Linked DNA regions of Homo sapiens: all the other regions are linked to region 2. Evidence: fine-mapped expression QTL. A gene starts in region 2. Each other region holds a variant in brackets. All regions are shown on one strand. Distances are from middle to middle.

Region 1 (4,225 bases), 67 kb after region 2:
ATTATTTTTAAATACACAGTTAAGTCATTATTGACTATGGTTAACCTATTGTGCTATCAAATAGTAGGTCTTACTCATTCTTTCTTCTTTTTTGTACCCTTAACCATCCCCAACTCGTCCCAAACCTTCAGTACCCTTCCCAGCCTCTGGTAACCATTCTTCTACTCTCTGTGTCCATGAATTCAATTGTTTTAATTTTTAGCTCCCACAGATGAGTGAGAACATGCAAAGCTTGTCTTTCCGTACCTGGCTTATTTCACTTAACATAATGATCTCCACTTCCATCCATGTTGTTGCAAATGCCTGGATCTCATTCTTTTTTATGGCTAACTAGTCCTCCATTGCGTATAAGTACCACATTTTCTTCATCCATTCATTTGTTGATGGACACTTAGGTTGCTTCCAAATCTTAGCTGTTGTAAGCAGTGCTGCAACAAACATGGGAGTGCAGCTACCTCTTTGATATACTGATTTCCTTTCTTTTGTGTATATACCCAGCAGTGGGATTGCTGGATCATATGGCAGCTCAATTTTTAGTTTTTTGAGGAACCTCCAAACTATTCTTCATAGTACCAATTTACATTCCCACCAACACTGTACAAGGGTTTCCTTTTCTTCACATCCTCACCAGCATTTGTTATTGCCTGTCTTTTGGATATAATTCATTTTAACTTGGGTGAGATGACATCTCATTGTAGTATTGATTGGCATTTCTCTGATGATCAATGATGTTAAGCATCTTTTCATATTTCTGTTTGCAATTTGTATGTCTTCTTTTGAGAAATTTCTATTCAAATATTATGCCTATTTTTCGATTAGATTATTAATTTTTTTTCCTGTATGGTTGTTTGAGCACTTTATATATTCTGGTTATTAATCCCTTGTCAGAGGGGCAGTTTGCAAATATTTTCTTCGATTCTGTGGGTTGTCTCTTTACTTTATTGATTGTGTCCTTTGCTGTGCAGAAGAGAGATTACTTTAAAAGCAAGGAAACAGAAGACCAAAGAGGGCAAATGATGCTTTTCTTTCAACTGAAATGGTGGCAAAAATCTGGCTGATTCTATTGATTAAGTTCCACAATAACATCTCATGAGCAGATATACCAGTATATCACAACTCTGAGCTCCAGCTAAGATCTGAGGATTATTGACTCAAACAACTTTTTAATCTAGGCCAATTCTTCTGCTTTCATTGGCCACAGTATAAATGGGAACAAATTTAACACCAGCTATGGGAATATCTAGAGAACAATATGTTGTTTATTGAACTGGATCTTCATCATAAGAAAATTCTCCTTAACAGGACCAGAAACTAATTTCCTTTCAATAACATTTGTTTTTAGGTAATAGCATTTTGGAATAAAAATGATCTAACAGCTGAGGGTTCTAAGTAGCTGTTTAACATTGGGCAAGTTAGTTTGTATCTTGGTTTCTTCAGGTAGAAATTAACTATATAATTAATAATTTTTATATATTCCCTCCTCTAGAAAAACTTAAAGCAGTTACTTGAAAAGTGATAAGGTTGAAACAATTTTAAATACCCTTCTGGAACTTAAAACTTGTGGTTCTATCATTATTACTTTGGTGGGTAAAGTGGAAGTAATGCAGAAATGTATTCCATGCATGCAAACACTTAAATAACTAGCATTCAGTCAGTGACTAATGGCAGTAATAAAGAATCACCGAGTAGGATACATAGAGGAAACATGAGCCTTCGGCAGAGTTCTCAAATTTAAATTTACTAGCATAGGAATAAAAAGACAATTAGTAAAAATGGTTTGAGTTATATCTGTAAAGACTGAAAACAAGCATTCTTAGCATAAGAGAAAAAGGGTAAGATAAGAATAATTTGTCCGTGGAAAATAGAACTTTTCTTTCATGTTATACCAAAACACCAGGGCTTTAGTCAACTAGATTTGCTTTATGGTGTACCAAAGCAATGGCTTCACTAGTTTGACTGAATTTGTTTTCCTTTTCACCTTCCTTTAGGGAAGTCATATAACTTTTATAGCTTGAACATACTATTGTAAGTAGAGGCACATTGATCACATCTCTGAAAACTGAATACAGCTGCAAATGGATATAGACAAATTCCATTCTG[G/C]TTCAACATAATGGGTAGCTTTCCAGCTACTGGCTGTTCATATTATGTAGCTTTCAGCGTAGTTCAGTGTTTTGCTTTTGTAAAATTGGTTTTAAAAAAATGTGGGCAAAAGGGGAAACATGGCAAAAAACCTTGATTGACAGCCTTACTCCTAAAGGCAATGTGGAAGAGTTCAGTGAGGGTGAGCCCTCTCTCGCCTCTGAGGTAATGTGTTCTGACCTGCTCTTTTATAGCAGAGAAGAGAGTAGACAGCAGCAGATGCATGGCCAGATGCCCTGCTGGCTACTCGGCTAGCTGCTGCAGCTCTGAGGAACCCTGCGTTCCCAGGATGAAATTCATGGTCACCCCCTGAGCAACCTACAGGGGCTCTTGCAAACTCTCAGGGAAGCTGGAGCCAGATAATGAACCACAGGTTCTGCTCTGCTTATCTCATGTTAGGAGCCTTCCTCTAAGAATATAGCAGTGGCAGTATTTCCCTTCCTTATTCTACCAAGTTTGTGCTAAGTACTTACTTTTTTTGAGCTAATTTGTATTGTTTAGGGCATGCAAAGATGGAAAAGCTATAAAAAATAAGAGAGTGCTTAACATAAAAACCAGATAATGGTTGGTCGTTGGGGTTCAGGGGAAGATAGTAATTTAAATAGGCACACAGAGGTCTTTAAAATGATCAGCGATCACATTCTTAAGTGGGGATGGGTAGGAAAATGGTGTTAATTTTGTTATTAATCTTAAAATTGTAGTTCTTTTCAGCATGTGTGCGTCACAATAATAAAAAATAAGATTTAAGAAATGAAATAGGACATCTGCAAACCTAGGTTTACAGTCTTGCCTTACCATGCATTGCTAGCATGAACTTAAGAGGGAAGTTTCTATGTATCAATCAGTTCATAACTAATCCTAGGTATTGTTGAAATCCACAAATTTTCACAGTTTTTGGGGAGGGGATATTGAAACTCTGCTTTTTTTTTTTTTTCCCAGCTGCATTTTAAAAGAAATTCAGAAAACAAAAGCCCCCAAACATTTTTCCTTATATATGCCATGCCTGTTCAGGAGTGATCTCCAAACATTTCCTCATGTAGTGAAATAACAAAGCCAACCTCACCAAATGCCGTGAAAATTAAATAAAATAACACCTATAAAGTTATTTGGTCATAGTAAAAACTTTTAATAAATATCAATTTCCATCCTCCTAGCCTTAGTGAAATTAATTTAATATATGTGTACCTACAAGTTTATATAATATTTTTATTGATAAAGCTAGAGAAACAGGGCTAAATATATAGTAAACTTATAATTTACTTGACATGATTAGTATACTCAAAATCAAACTCCATCAAATTGCTATATTTCATTTTTACTTAGGGTGGATAAGTACATTTCACTTTATGACAAGTAAAAATTTGTTTAAAATACTGTGAAATTCTAATTTTTAAAAAGTTTCTTGAAATGGAGTAAAATAATTTGAGAAACTCCTAAAAACTGTGACAAACTAGGGTGCTCTCCATTCGTTTTTCTTTTCATGTTGCTTTTTTATTCATTTGTAGATGCATAAAACATTTTGTGTCTGGCTCTGTGCTTGGCACAGGAATTCAATGATAAGTTCAGGTTTAAAGAATATAGGTAAGAAGGGAAAGGGAAATATATAGTCACAGATGAAGGTATAAGAATAGAATACACTTCAAGAATAGTGGCAGCAAAACAAAGCACAGAGTATTCCGAAGATTAAAAACATAATGCCCATTTGGCCATGTTGACATCACAGCAAGGGAAAAAACAAACGAACAAAAAAAACAAACGAGGTCAAACTGTGTTCTTTGGACACATGGTGCAGATGTAACAGCTGGCATTAAAGGAAGAGAAGCCATTTAATGATTTCTTAGTTTCTATCTCCTTTATTAAGCAGCACATCTTCAAACTGGAAAGTCTTGAATAATTATGATTAAGAAGGATTTAAAGTCCATGACAGATGAGGCATTGAATTACCTTAAGCAGAATTCCACAAATCACCAATTTCATAGTAACCCTAACAGGTAACTGCTATCCTTGATGCTGTTCCCTTTCCATTTTTACAGTTAAGGAATCCGAGGCTCAGAGGGATGACACAGGTAGTAACTGACAGAGTAAG
Region 2 (4,000 bases):
TGATGAAAAAACTGAGGCAGAGAGAGATTTAATGACCTCTCTGAAATCATGTAACTTCAGTTAGGGAAGTGGCCGAAATAAAAATCCAGGCTTTGAGACTTCTGATCTAATGATTCCACTTCATCATGTCATAAGCTCTTTCAGAATCTTCTAACATTTGTACACCACCTTATTCCTTCTGGGTACTCAATAAATGACTGGGCTTGTTGTTCTAGTACTCACAATAATTCAAAAAAAAAAAAAAAAACAGAGGAAAACATGTCTTACCACATGATAAATTGATGTCAGAATAAGTTTACTGTAGTAATTTTTTCAGTGTGAAGGTTGTTACCTGTGAATGAAAAACAGTGTAACAACAGCAAAATAAATTCTGTCTCAGTTTTTGTTTTTTTTCTTTTTATGTGAAAGGTTAACACTTCAACTGACACTACAAATGTTTATTAATTTGGCTTTAACTCACAGAATTTGAATTGGGTAGAAAACCTTTGAATATTACTTTTCCCATGAATGTTTTCCCCATACTTGGTGTTGCCAAAGAGATTACCTTGGCACTGTTTAACTAAACGTTTATTGATTAATTCATTCAAGCATCAAAGCTAATGAATACTTACAGATAGCAGTTGCCACAAACAAATTTTAGGAAGAATATCTTATTGCTAGGTATAGTAACTAGAAAATTATAAGAATTTTAAATCATGGCTCCACATGTTGAAAGATCAAAAAGGAAGGCTGTTAAATCAGAAAGAACAGACTTCAGAATGATGCAGGTTGTTTGTTTCCCCAGGGAAAATGTTCTTTCCAGGGCCAAGAGCATTTTCTTATTTTTTCTATATTCCTTCCATCCATCCATCCATCCATCCGTCCATCCATCCATCCATCCACCCACCCACCCACTCACCCACCCAAGCATGCATGCATGCACCCTACACACCTGTGTCAAATACGAAGCTGGATCCTCAGGACACAGTGGTTTCTGCTCTCTCTGAGTTTCAGTTCTAAATTTAAAGGCAAACTCAGAAGTTTCTAAATGTGTGAGCTCTTTTCCCTTCTATCAAATCAATTGCATTTTCCCACACTTCCAACATTCATTTTGTTGTCCACCTGTTCATGGGAAGCAAAGGCACCTTTGCAGACAGATTTCAGTCTGGCTTTCTTTCATCCAATTGCAATGGGCCTCTGATCTTTTCATGGCTGGCTGCTTGCCATGCATGTCTCAACTTAACGAGCACCTCCTTGGAGGGGCCTCTTTTAACCATCTCATCTGAAGTAGTCATTCACCAGCTGCCATCACATCAACCTGTTTTATTTTCATTGTAGCATTTGTCCTTGATATTTTTTCATTTGCTTATTTAATTGGTCCCCCTTTCTGCCACGAAAGCTCTATGAGGGCAGACAGGTGCCTCATCTGCTTCTTTGCCTCCGAATTCTGAAATGATTTGAAACGCAGTTGGCATTCATTAAATATTTGTTGACTTAATGAATGGATTCTTAATTGGCTACTACTGCTTAAAGGTCTACAAATACTGATTCATCCTTGTTGACAAGTTTTTACTTCTCACACGTATGCATATTAATCAGAATTTAAAACTAAGTCTTAAAAATAAAACAGCTTGGAAACGTGGGAAACATCTGGCAGAGAAATCATTCTTGCATTCGCAGTGACGGAAGGAAAATTTTTTCTCTGAAGTAAGCAGGTTGTTGGCCTCTTTATCGGTATCATTGGAAAATGCTTGCCTATTTTTGTTGGTTTTCTCAGGAACTGGGAACATCTGGCGTTTGGAACATAGAACGTTGTTCATTTTTAAAGCAGAGTCATAATAACTTTATGAGTTGAGGGTAAGAGAGAAAATGACCAAAGAAAATGAAGGCAGTCTGGAGAAAGAAGAGGCTCGTGTCCCTTTTAAGGAACAGGTTTCCTTGGCTCTTTGAGAGTGGTTCTTAAAGGAAGCTTCCTACGAAGTCCGCAGTTGGTATCCTTACTAAATGAGCCAACTAAATAGTGGAGGGGAAAAAAAGAGTGCGTGCCTGGCTCCTCCTAGTTCAGGCTCATACCGCCTCCTGAAAGTTGTGGCTACAGGACAGGCTTTGGCTGCTTTCTAGAACGTCGCTCGGATCCCTTTAAAGGTGGGGATCTTGACGGAGAGTGCGGGGGATGAAGGCGGGAGCTGAGGGCTGGAGAGTCTCTGTTGACATAGTAACTCTTCAGCTCCGTCTCCCTTGCTCTCCGCTCTTACGCTTCGCTACCACCAGCGGCCCCGCCTGTGCCCTCTCTGCCCGGGCGCCCCAGACGCATCCTCGCGGGGTCTCCTCGGCCTGACCTGCTCAGGTCAAGATCCTCTTTGCACCCCCTTAAGTGGTGACTTTTCCCCGGGCCAGTGGGCGAGCCACTTGCGGCGGGCGTCTGCACCCCCTGCTTCACCGTCGTCCCCTGGGCACCGGTCTGCCCAGGTCCAGTTCGGCCGCTGACGCGAACCCTCCGCACCGGGTCCCCGCTGGAACTGCCCACTCGGCTCCCCCGGGAGCGGGGCCCAGGCCAGTCGGGCGTTCCCGCCATGAGCCAGAGCCCGGCGTTCGGGCCCCGGAGGGGCAGTTCTCCCCGGGGCGCTGCCGGAGCCGCTGCGCGGCGCAACGAGAGCCAGGACTATCTGCTCATGGACTCGGAGCTGGGAGAAGACGGCTGCCCGCAAGCCCCGCTGCCTTGCTACGGCTACTACCCCTGCTTGTGAGTGCCGGCGACGCGGGGCGGATCGGGCGCGGGCTGCGCGGAGGGAGGTTGTGCGCTCGCAGGAGTGGCCGAGTCCGTCCGCGCGCGTCCTGAACCCGCGTGTGTACCTCCTAGGACGGTGCTGGGAGGTCCGCGAGAGCCAGGGCTGGGACCTGAGTGAGTGGAGGGGCGCGCGGGGAGTGGGGGAGGCGGGGTTGTCTAGGTTTGCTCCTCGTAGGTACGCATGGATATGTTTGCCCACGAGAGTGAGACCGCATAGTAACACCACCATTGCAGGTGATTAGATGGGTGGTCGATTTCTCCAGACCCCTTCATCCTGCGCTCTACAAGAGACAGGATCGCTACGTAACAGGCGGGATCTGAACAGGGGGCTGATTCAGATGTGCGCCCGGGTGACTCTTAGCCTATGTGGGGGAGAGATGACTAGAACTCCAAGGGTTGGAGCTGCCTGGGTGCTGGGTGCGCCCGGCGGTCTCCACGCTTGGCTTAGCGTTTCGGGCTGAGCGCTGAGGTCCTTGGACCGTGGGACAGCCAAAGTTAGACCAGGACCTCTCCCCGGTCCTGGGGCCTTGGAGTGAAGACAGAAATAGAACCAATAGGACTCTCCACCGGCGGCGCGAACCTTTTCACCCGGGGCGTCTGGGGAGACGAGCCTGTTAGGGGCTGGGAGACTCACGGGCTATAGAAGTGAGGGCGTCGGGTCGTTTGTATTGGGCTGTGGGTAACTGCAAGCTTTTGTTTATGAATCTAGGGTATTTTTTTTTTTAGCTGGGTGGGTGGCGGGAGGGGAGGTAGGGAGTAAGCAGAGTGGACTCCAGAAGAAAAGACTCCGCTTCCCCGACACCGCTGTGACCACATGTGCAGCGGGCAGATAGCATTTCTGTCCCATTGCCCCTTTGGGTGATTGGGTAGTCAAGTTTCCTGACTTGTCACATCCACCCGCAAGCGGTTTCCCGAGGTTCTCAGCTCTATAAACAGCTTTAGTTGGAGGGAGGATTCCACCCCATAGGCGCCTGGCAGACCCTCCTGATAGATGGGTGCTGTGTCAGGGCTGCCCAGCCTCAAGCCCTGCTGCGGTGCCCTTTCGAAGTAAGAGGTGAGCCGCAGTAAAGGGAGCATCTAACTTTTCTCAAAGATAAAGGAGAATAGTTAGAACTGGTTTCATTCATCTGTGTGCTGTGCAAGTTAAGAGCATTTACAATTATGTATATGTTTTTCTTTTTAAAAGTTCAAGACATAATTCCCATACCACGTAATTCCCCCATTTAACTTGTA
Region 3 (4,225 bases), 360 kb after region 2:
GGATGGTCTCGATCTCCTGACCTCGTGATCCGCCCATCTCGGCCTCCCAAAGTGCTGGGATTACAGGCGTGAGCCACTGCGCCCGGCCTCCCCAGCAAATCTTATTGTATGAGTAATAAACTTCTTCATACCCTGTTGGGTGTGTGTGTGTGTGTGTGTGTGTTCATCAATCTTGACATTTGAACCAAATTTTGTATGGGGGTCCATCCTACATTTTCAAAGTGGCTAGACAACTCATTAAATGAGAATAATCTTGTTTAAAACCATCAACAAGTTGATAAAGTATTAAGCAGTGTTCTAGAACACTTTACTATCACTCTCTCCTCCCAATTAACATGTTTTTCTTTAGTTCTGTTTCCTTTTTAACCTATAAATAAGATAGCACTATTTTTAGTATCTTATAAAGACAATGTTTACCTATATGTTTACCAACATATTTGAGCACCATTTCTTTTTTCTGTCTCCTACCTGCTGTCTGTAGTCATTTTCTTTATTTATTTCAGCAATTCTTTTATCTTACACATTTCACTGTTGTCACCTCTTCATAGATGATCTGCCTGGCCTTTATGCCTGCTTTTATGAGCTTCTCCTTGGTTTTATGCTGTTTCATCACAAAGTGTGAAGGTGTACTTTTTTCCTAATTTATCCTGCACGGTATTTGCGTTGGTTTGGTTCCCTCTGTGTAGATTCATATTTTTCATCTATTTTTAGCTATTATTTCTGCAAATATTCACTCTCTTAAATTTCCTCTATTCTGACTTTGTAGCAGTTCCTTTGCCTTATATTGAATCTTATTCTTTCCTTCATATTTCTAAAACTTTCTTCTATATTTTTGTCTTCTCTATGTACTATATTCTAAGTGATTTATTTTGGCTTATCTTCCAGTTCACATCTTTCTTCAGCTATGTCTGATCTGCTATTTAATATTGATTTTTTAAAACAATTTTATTTTTTATACCTAAAATTTCTATTTTTTTCAAAATGATCCTAGTAATTTCCTGAGGTCTCTGCTTTTGCATTTTAGATTCTGTTTTTTTTTATATTTTTAGACACTTCATTTTTAGTTATATTGTGTTCTCTGTTTCTTAGTTTCAATATCCAAAACCCTTGGGGAAATCTCTCTTGTTTTTGCTAAATTTCAGTCATACAGTCATCTCTTTTGTGGTTTTGTTGATCTTTATTTTGAGCTAAATTTGCTTGAGCTTAATCTATGAAAATCTTGCAGTCTAAATAGAAGTTGTTATCTTCCAGAGAGGATTTGCACCACTTCTACTAAAAGCCAGGAGTTGCTCTCAATCTGGAATCACTTGAGTTCAGTTTAACGATTCCACATTGCAACCAACCGACGACACTGTCTCTTCTTTCTACACTAATATCAGCACTTCTTTTTTTTTTAGGCAACTTCACTTTTCCAGCTTGTTCTGCAGTTACCGCTCAGTGGTCCTACTCTAGCCTAAACTCACGTATCAATTTGCATAATATGTGTTTATTTAGGAGGTGATTCTTGGAGATTTTCTTAACTCCCTTGAGTCTAGCAATGCATTAGAAAAATGCATGTTTTATTTAGGATCTAGTTAATTTGTAGGAGGAATGCCTTCAGAATTAACCTTACTTCTAGAAGCAGAAATTTAAAGATCAGAATTTCAGCTCATTGAACCAGAGATATTCAGGAGTAGGAGTAAGATGTGCCTCTTAACTTATGCTCCAGAAGCAATTGCCTCCTCAGTCTATACATCACAGGGACAGCCCTCTCATACATTTAAGTGGAAATAGAAGACTCATCATTATATAACTTTTCTAGATTATATTTCTTGCATTGTCTTGAATTATATTTTTATTTAAAAATGTTTCATTTTTAAAGTGATTTTGAGGCCGGGCGTGGTGGCTCATGCCTGTAATCCCCGCATTTTGGGAGGCCAAGGAGGGCGGATCATGAGGTCAGGAGATCGAGACCATCCTGGCTAATATGGTGAAACCCCGTCTCTATTAAAAATACAAACAATTAGCCAGGTGTGAGGGCGGGCACCTGTAGACCCAGCTACTCGGGAGGCTGAGGCAGGAGAATGGCATGAACCCGGGAGGTGGAGCTTGCAGTGAGCTGAGATCGCACCACTGCACTCCAGCCTGGGCAAGAGAGCAAAACTCC[G/A]TCTCAAAAAAAAACAAAAAACAAAAAAAAACACCTGATTTTGATTATCTCTTTTGTTTGTTCATTTTATTTTATTTTGCTTTTTGTTTCGTTTTAGGGCATTTAGTACTAGTTTTCAAAAAGTCTTGTTATACTGGTAATAATTTTTAAAGAGATACCTCCCCAAACTGTTTGTGTTCTCATTATAATAAACTAAAAAGAAAAGTTAAACTCTTTGTCTGGTTATGTCAATCTGGAGAGTTGATTTATACCTTGAAGAAGATTAGTTTTGACTCAGCATTTTGTAACTACTAAATTTTCATTTAACAGTACATCTTTCCTGAGCTACAATTTCCAACTGGTATAATTATTGTACAGAATTTTGAGTAGCTGTATTGCACCTTGGTCGCTTATCATATAACTAATAAGTTATAATTATAGCAACAAAACACTTTGAAAAGCAAAATTAGTTTAGTGGCAATCAAATTCAAAAATCCATTCAAAGAAAGCTAAGTAATAACTGTAATTGAGTCATATGTAAAATGAAAAAGCTTCAAAACATAATGTTTTAAAACATCTTGTAGAAAAGTGACACAGCATCTTTGATTTTCTTGTTATGTTGCTCTTTAGCTATAAAGATAAAAAAATTGGAGCAAGATGATTGACTAGAGATGCTGAGCATGCATGTCTGTGACAAGAAAGGACCAAGGCAACAACAAATAAACAGCTAAGATTTGACTGGAGTGTCAAAGGGAGAGGACTGGAGTGCAGTAGGGGAGTGGAGATACACTTGCAGTGACTGGAATTCCAGGAGGTCATCACCTCCGTTGTGTTGTCTCCACCACTTGGAATAGATTGGCCCAGAGTTAGGAGAGACTTCCAGTTGCAGGAAAAAGGTAAGCAGATGATCCCGCCACTCTCCAGTGCCACTGAAAACACCTACCATTCTTACTACAGGGGAAGCTCCATAGTACTCAACAAGCCTTGAGCCCAGATTGGAAGGCTGCTGGGAATTCATGCAGACGCATTGCCTCAGACTAGGCACACAAGGTGTGCACCATCTGCCCCTCACCAACCCCTGTGAGACAAGCTGCTGCAGCATAGTGCCATCTTGAGACCAGAGCCACCTCTAGAGTGCACCCTCCTCTGGGACCTGGTAGCCACTATACTTCCTCAGTACTGTAACTCCATTTTCATTATGCCAAGCCCATACTGATGGCTAAATGCCACAACCAGCTGTGAGGAGCCTGGGTCCAGGATCAGCTATGATTTGGCTGAGTTGATGTCTGTTCCCCAACCTAGCAGCTGTGCACCCACATCCTAGACTTAAGAAATAACCCTGTGGGCCATACCGAGCAGAAATGTCCCTAGACCAGCCAAAAAGCCATATGACCACATCCTGAGCCTGAGAAACACCCGTGTGGGCCACCCCAAGCAAACATATCCCCAGGTCAACTGGGCAGTCATGCCGCTGTGTCCTGAGCCTGAGAAACAGCCCCATGGGTCACCCCAAGCAGATATGTGCCATACTGGGCCAGCCCAGTAGCTATGTGCCCACATAGCAGAACTAAAAAACAGCCTGTCAGGATGCCTCTGGTAAGCACATCCCCAAGCCAGCCAAGTAGCCTTGTGCCCCATCCCAGGCCTGAGAAACAATCTTGTGGGCTGCCTCTGACAAACACATTCCCAAACCAACCAAGCAACCACATGCCCATGCTCCTGGCCAGAGTAACAGCCCTATGGCCCCAACCCCAGTGAGCCAGATATGAAGTCAGCCAAACCACCATGTGCGTAAAAATGACCCTGACCTGAGAAATAGCCTGGCAAGCCCATTCCTGGAGAGCCACACCACAAATTCTGTCAGTCTAAGCTGATGATAAACTTACAAATGTTACCAGTGTGGATTACAGCTAAAGAAACTACATGGAGAGTTACACTACTGCATCTAGAACCAAGGCCAATATACTCCATCAAACCAACACAGCAATGCTCATTTATGCAAATAGCTCTTTTGATATGAAGCCTATTCAATTAAAGAGAAAAGTCATCTTTTCCAGTACATGCATAGAAGTCAACACAGGGACACATCAACCATGAATA
Region 4 (4,225 bases), 310 kb before region 2:
CATGCTCATAAATAGGAAGAATCAGTATCATGAAAATGGCCATACTGCCCAAAGTAATTTTTTTTTTTGAGACGAAGTTTCACTCGTGTTGCCCAGGCTGGAGAGCAATGGCGTGATCTTGGCTCACTGCAACCTCTGCCTGCTGGGTTCAAGCGATTCTCCTGCCTCAGCCTCCCGAGTAGTTGGGATTACAGGTGCCTGCCTCCATGCCCAGCTAATTTTTGTAATTTAATAGAGATGGGGTTTCACCATGTTGATCAGGCTGATCTTGAACTTCTGACCTCAGGTGATCCACCTGCCTCGGCCTCCCAAAGTGCTGGGATTACAGACATGAGCCACTGTGCCTGCCCAGAGTAATTTATAGATTCAATGCTATTCCCATCAAGCTACCATTGACTTTCTTCACATAATTAGAAAAAACTACTTTAAATTCCATATGGAACCAAAAAAGAGCCTGTATAGTCAAGACAATCCTAAGCAAAAAGAACAAAGCTGGAGGCATCATGCTACCTGACTTCAAACTATACTACAAGGCTACAGTAACCAAAACAGCTTGATACTGGTACCAAAACAGATATATGGACCAATGGAATAGAACAGAGGCCTCAGAAATAACACCACAAATCTACAACCATCTGATCTTTGACAAACCTGACAAAAAAAGCAATGGGGAAAGGATTCCCTTTTTAATAAATGGTGCTGGGAAAACTGGCTAGCCATATGCGGAAAACTGAAACTGGATCCCTTTCTTTTACCTTATACAAAAATTAATTCAAGATAGATTAAAGATTTAAACGTAAGACCTAAAACCATAAAATCCCTAGAAGAAAACCTAGGCAATTCCATTCAGGACATAGGCATGGGCAAAGACTTCATGACTGAAACAACAAAAGCAATTTGAACAAAAGCCAAAATTGACAAATGGGATCTGATTAAACTAAAGAGCTCCTGCACAGCAAAAGAAACTATCATCAGAGTGAATAGGCAACCTGCAGAGTGGGAGAAAATTTTCGCAATCTATCCTTCTGGCAAAGGGCTAATATCCAGAATCTACAAATAACTTAAACAAATTTACAAGAAAAAAACAAACAAGCCCATCAAAAAGTGGGCAAAGGATATGAACAGACACTTTTCAAAAGACGACATTTAAGCGGCCAACCACATATGAAAAAAAGCTTGTCATCACTGGTCATTAGAGAAATGCAAATCAAAACCACAAGGAGATACCATCTCACACCAGTTAGAATGGTGATAAGTAAAAAGTCAGGAAACAACAGATGCTGGAGAGGATGTGGAGAAATAGGAACGCTTTTACACTGTTGGTGGGAGTGTAAATTAGTTCAACCATTGTTGAAGACAGTGTGGTGATTCCTCAAGGATCTAGAACTAGAAATACCATTTGACCCAGCAATCCCATTACTGGGTATATACCCAAAGGATTATAAATCATTCTACTATAAAGACACATGTACATGTACGTGTATTGCAGCACTATTCACAACAGCAAAGACTTGGCACCAACCCAAATGCCCATCAATGATAGACTGGATAAGGAAAATGTGGCACATATACACCATGGAATACTATGCAGCCATAAAAAGAATGAGTTCATGTCCTTTGCAGGGACATGGATGAAGCTAGAAACCGTCATTCTCAGCAAACTAACACAGGAACAGAAAACCAAACACTGCATATTCTCACTCATAAGTAGGAGTTGAACAATGAGAACACATGGACACAAGGAGGGGAACATCACACACAGGAGCCTGTCAGGGGGTGGGGGCTAGAGGAGGGATAGCATTAGAAGAAATACCTAATGTAGATAACGAGTTCATGGGTGCAGCGAATCACCATGCCACATGTATATCTGTGTAACAAACCTG[C/G]ACATTTTGCACATGTGTCCCAGAACTTAAGTATAATAAAAAATAAACACAAAAATTAGCTGGGGGTGGTGGTGCATGCCTCTGTAATCCCAGCTACTTGGGAGGCTGAGGCATGAGAATCGCTTGAACTGGGGGGAGGCGGAAGTTGCAGTGAGCCGAGATCGCACTACTGCACCGTAGCCTGGGTGACAGAGTTAGACTCTCAATAAATAAATAAATAAATAAATAAATAAATAAATAAATAAATAAATATAGGATTACAGAAAATGTATTTTTAAGTCTTAAATTTGAGGGTGGGGTACTGGGAAATGATGGCAGGGGCACTTAAATTGAAGTGTTGTATACTGTGTGAGACTCAGTGGACCCCTCTGGAGCCATTTTACTGGGCCCACTTTCTCTCCTTACTTTTCGATTGTAAGTGAGCGTGTTGCTAAAATGTCTGCCCCTGTGAGCTCTGAAGAAAGACTTAATATCTTAGCTATAATTTGAAGAGTTTGAATGCTGTCATGTTATTCTCCAACTCTGAAGTTTGTTTTGACTGGACCCTTATTTTCTTTAATAATTTTATGATTCAAGTAGAGGCATATATCTCAGAGCAGAGATATACACATTTGGGCTATGCCACGTGGGTAGGGAGAGGTAGAAAGCCATTGGCTAGAATATGTATGCAAGAAGTATGCAGTCCGAGTTGGGGAGTTTTATATTTCATCCTGAATCTATAATTGTCTTGGAAATATTGATCCTAAACCCGGGGATATTCCAATGTTATTACATTATGTTCAGGGCATAGGAAATTAACCAGCTGCATTGTAGCAAAGAAGTGTCTGTTAAGAAAGTATTCCAAGACAGAAAAAAATAATTTCAACTGAGTGTTTTTAGGAAATTTTTCTTCAGGAACCGCTGATTTGGAGGTTAAACCTTCTCATTTACTGGTAAATAACGTTTTGTTACCTGCCATAATATTTCAATTGGTTTTATGTTGAAATGCCTTAAGGTAAAATTTGACTTTCTATTTTATTCTTTAAATGAAGACTAATTTAATTTTGGGAGATAAAATTTGGGGAGATCATTATTATCTTCTCTCCTCAAATTTTACTTAATTTGGGGAGATAAAAATGAAAAAGGGTCTGATTTTCTCAAGTCTGGTGAAGTAGAAGTAGGAATTTTGTTTGTTTTATGAAGTAGGTAAGCACTGATAATTTGAGCTAGGTCATCCAGTGCCTTTAATTACTTATCTGAGCCATCTCAGAGTTTTTGAAATGCTAAACAAGACCAAACATTCAATAATAAACCATTATTCTAATTTGTATTAAAATATATTAAAACAAAGCATTTTTTTTACAGGAGAATTTTGGCTAGGACTGAAAAAGATTTTTTATATAGTAAATCAGAAAAATACCAGTTTTATGCTGTATGTGGCTTTGGAATCTGAAGATGACACTCTTGCTTATGCATCATATGATAATTTTTGGCTAGAGGATGAAACGAGATTTTTTAAAATGCACTTAGGACGGTATTCAGGAAATGCTGGTAAGATTTTTTTTATTCCTAAAATTATCCAGATCTAAATTATAACTGACTCATTATTAAGTGAAGATAAAAATAATGCATTTGTCTTTGTATATAACACATAACTGATAACAGGATAGATTAGGAATAAGAAAGCTGGCCAAGTCTTGAGTTTTGAAACTTTGTTATGATCATTGTACTACCTCATGCTTCTGAAGTGCTTTATAGTCTCTAAAACAATTTGCCTTATGTAATCTCAGTTGATTCTTTGGATAGAGAGCCTGTGGAGTAGGCTGTGAAGGCATTTTCATTTTCATGTTCAGAGAGGCTGACATTTAGAAGTGACAGACTGTTAGAGATGATCTCTAGTCATCTCACTTTACAGGTGAAAAAACCTGAGTGATAAAGTGACTTGCCCAACGTTCCCAGATCACGTCACCTGAGCCAAGGCAAGAATCCAGGCTGACAGAACAACAAGTTTAGTGTTTTTTCATTATACTTTGATGCATCTGCTCATTTCCAAATAAATTTAATTTGTCAGAACTTCAAAATACTTGATGTTAAACTTGCATTTTAATGCTGAAAATGTAAAGGCATTTGAGTTAAAAAGCACTAAATTCAACTCCCTTGTTGCTGTTTGTGGTACTTGTTCATTATGTATATTTAGTGTTAGAAATCAAAAAATAAATGATATATGTTCCCAGGTCTTTAACTGCTCCCAATATAAAGGGGAAGATAAGTAACACTGGAAATACAGAATACTGATAGAACTTTTGGGGTCAGAAAGAGGGTGAGAATGATTTCAGTTGATTGCACCCAAAAAATATTCATGG

Evidence for each region. PIP is the estimated chance that this variant, and not a neighbour inherited with it, causes the effect.
Region 1: its variant is the best candidate, but not a certain one, in a credible set for the expression of TRPC6 in whole blood (TOPMed, PIP 0.82).
Region 3: its variant is the best candidate, but not a certain one, in a credible set for the expression of TRPC6 in blood mononuclear cells (TOPMed, PIP 0.86).
Region 4: its variant is the best candidate, but not a certain one, in a credible set for the expression of TRPC6 in subcutaneous fat (GTEx, PIP 0.53).

The regions. Positions count from the first base shown.
Region 1 is chr11:101,514,957-101,519,181 of GRCh38, reverse strand. All of the region lies in intron 1 of TRPC6 (transient receptor potential cation channel subfamily C member 6), which reads left to right. Among named protein-coding and RNA genes, the nearest start is that of MIR3920, 2.8 kb to the left of the region's middle. The variant G/C (reference allele first, on the strand shown) is at 2,101.
Region 2 is chr11:101,582,056-101,586,055 of GRCh38, reverse strand. TRPC6 (transient receptor potential cation channel subfamily C member 6) reads left to right here and starts at 2,049. Exons shown (of 13, transcript NM_004621.6): 1 at 2,049-2,722. The coding sequence starts at 2,553.
Region 3 is chr11:101,223,902-101,228,126 of GRCh38, reverse strand. No RefSeq gene overlaps it. Among named protein-coding and RNA genes, the nearest start is that of PGR, 96 kb to the right of the region's middle. The variant G/A (reference allele first, on the strand shown) is at 2,147.
Region 4 is chr11:101,894,067-101,898,291 of GRCh38, reverse strand. It overlaps ANGPTL5 (angiopoietin like 5), which reads left to right. Exons shown (of 9, transcript NM_178127.5): 8 at 3,228-3,413. Among named protein-coding and RNA genes, the nearest start is that of CEP126, 19 kb to the left of the region's middle. The variant C/G (reference allele first, on the strand shown) is at 1,884.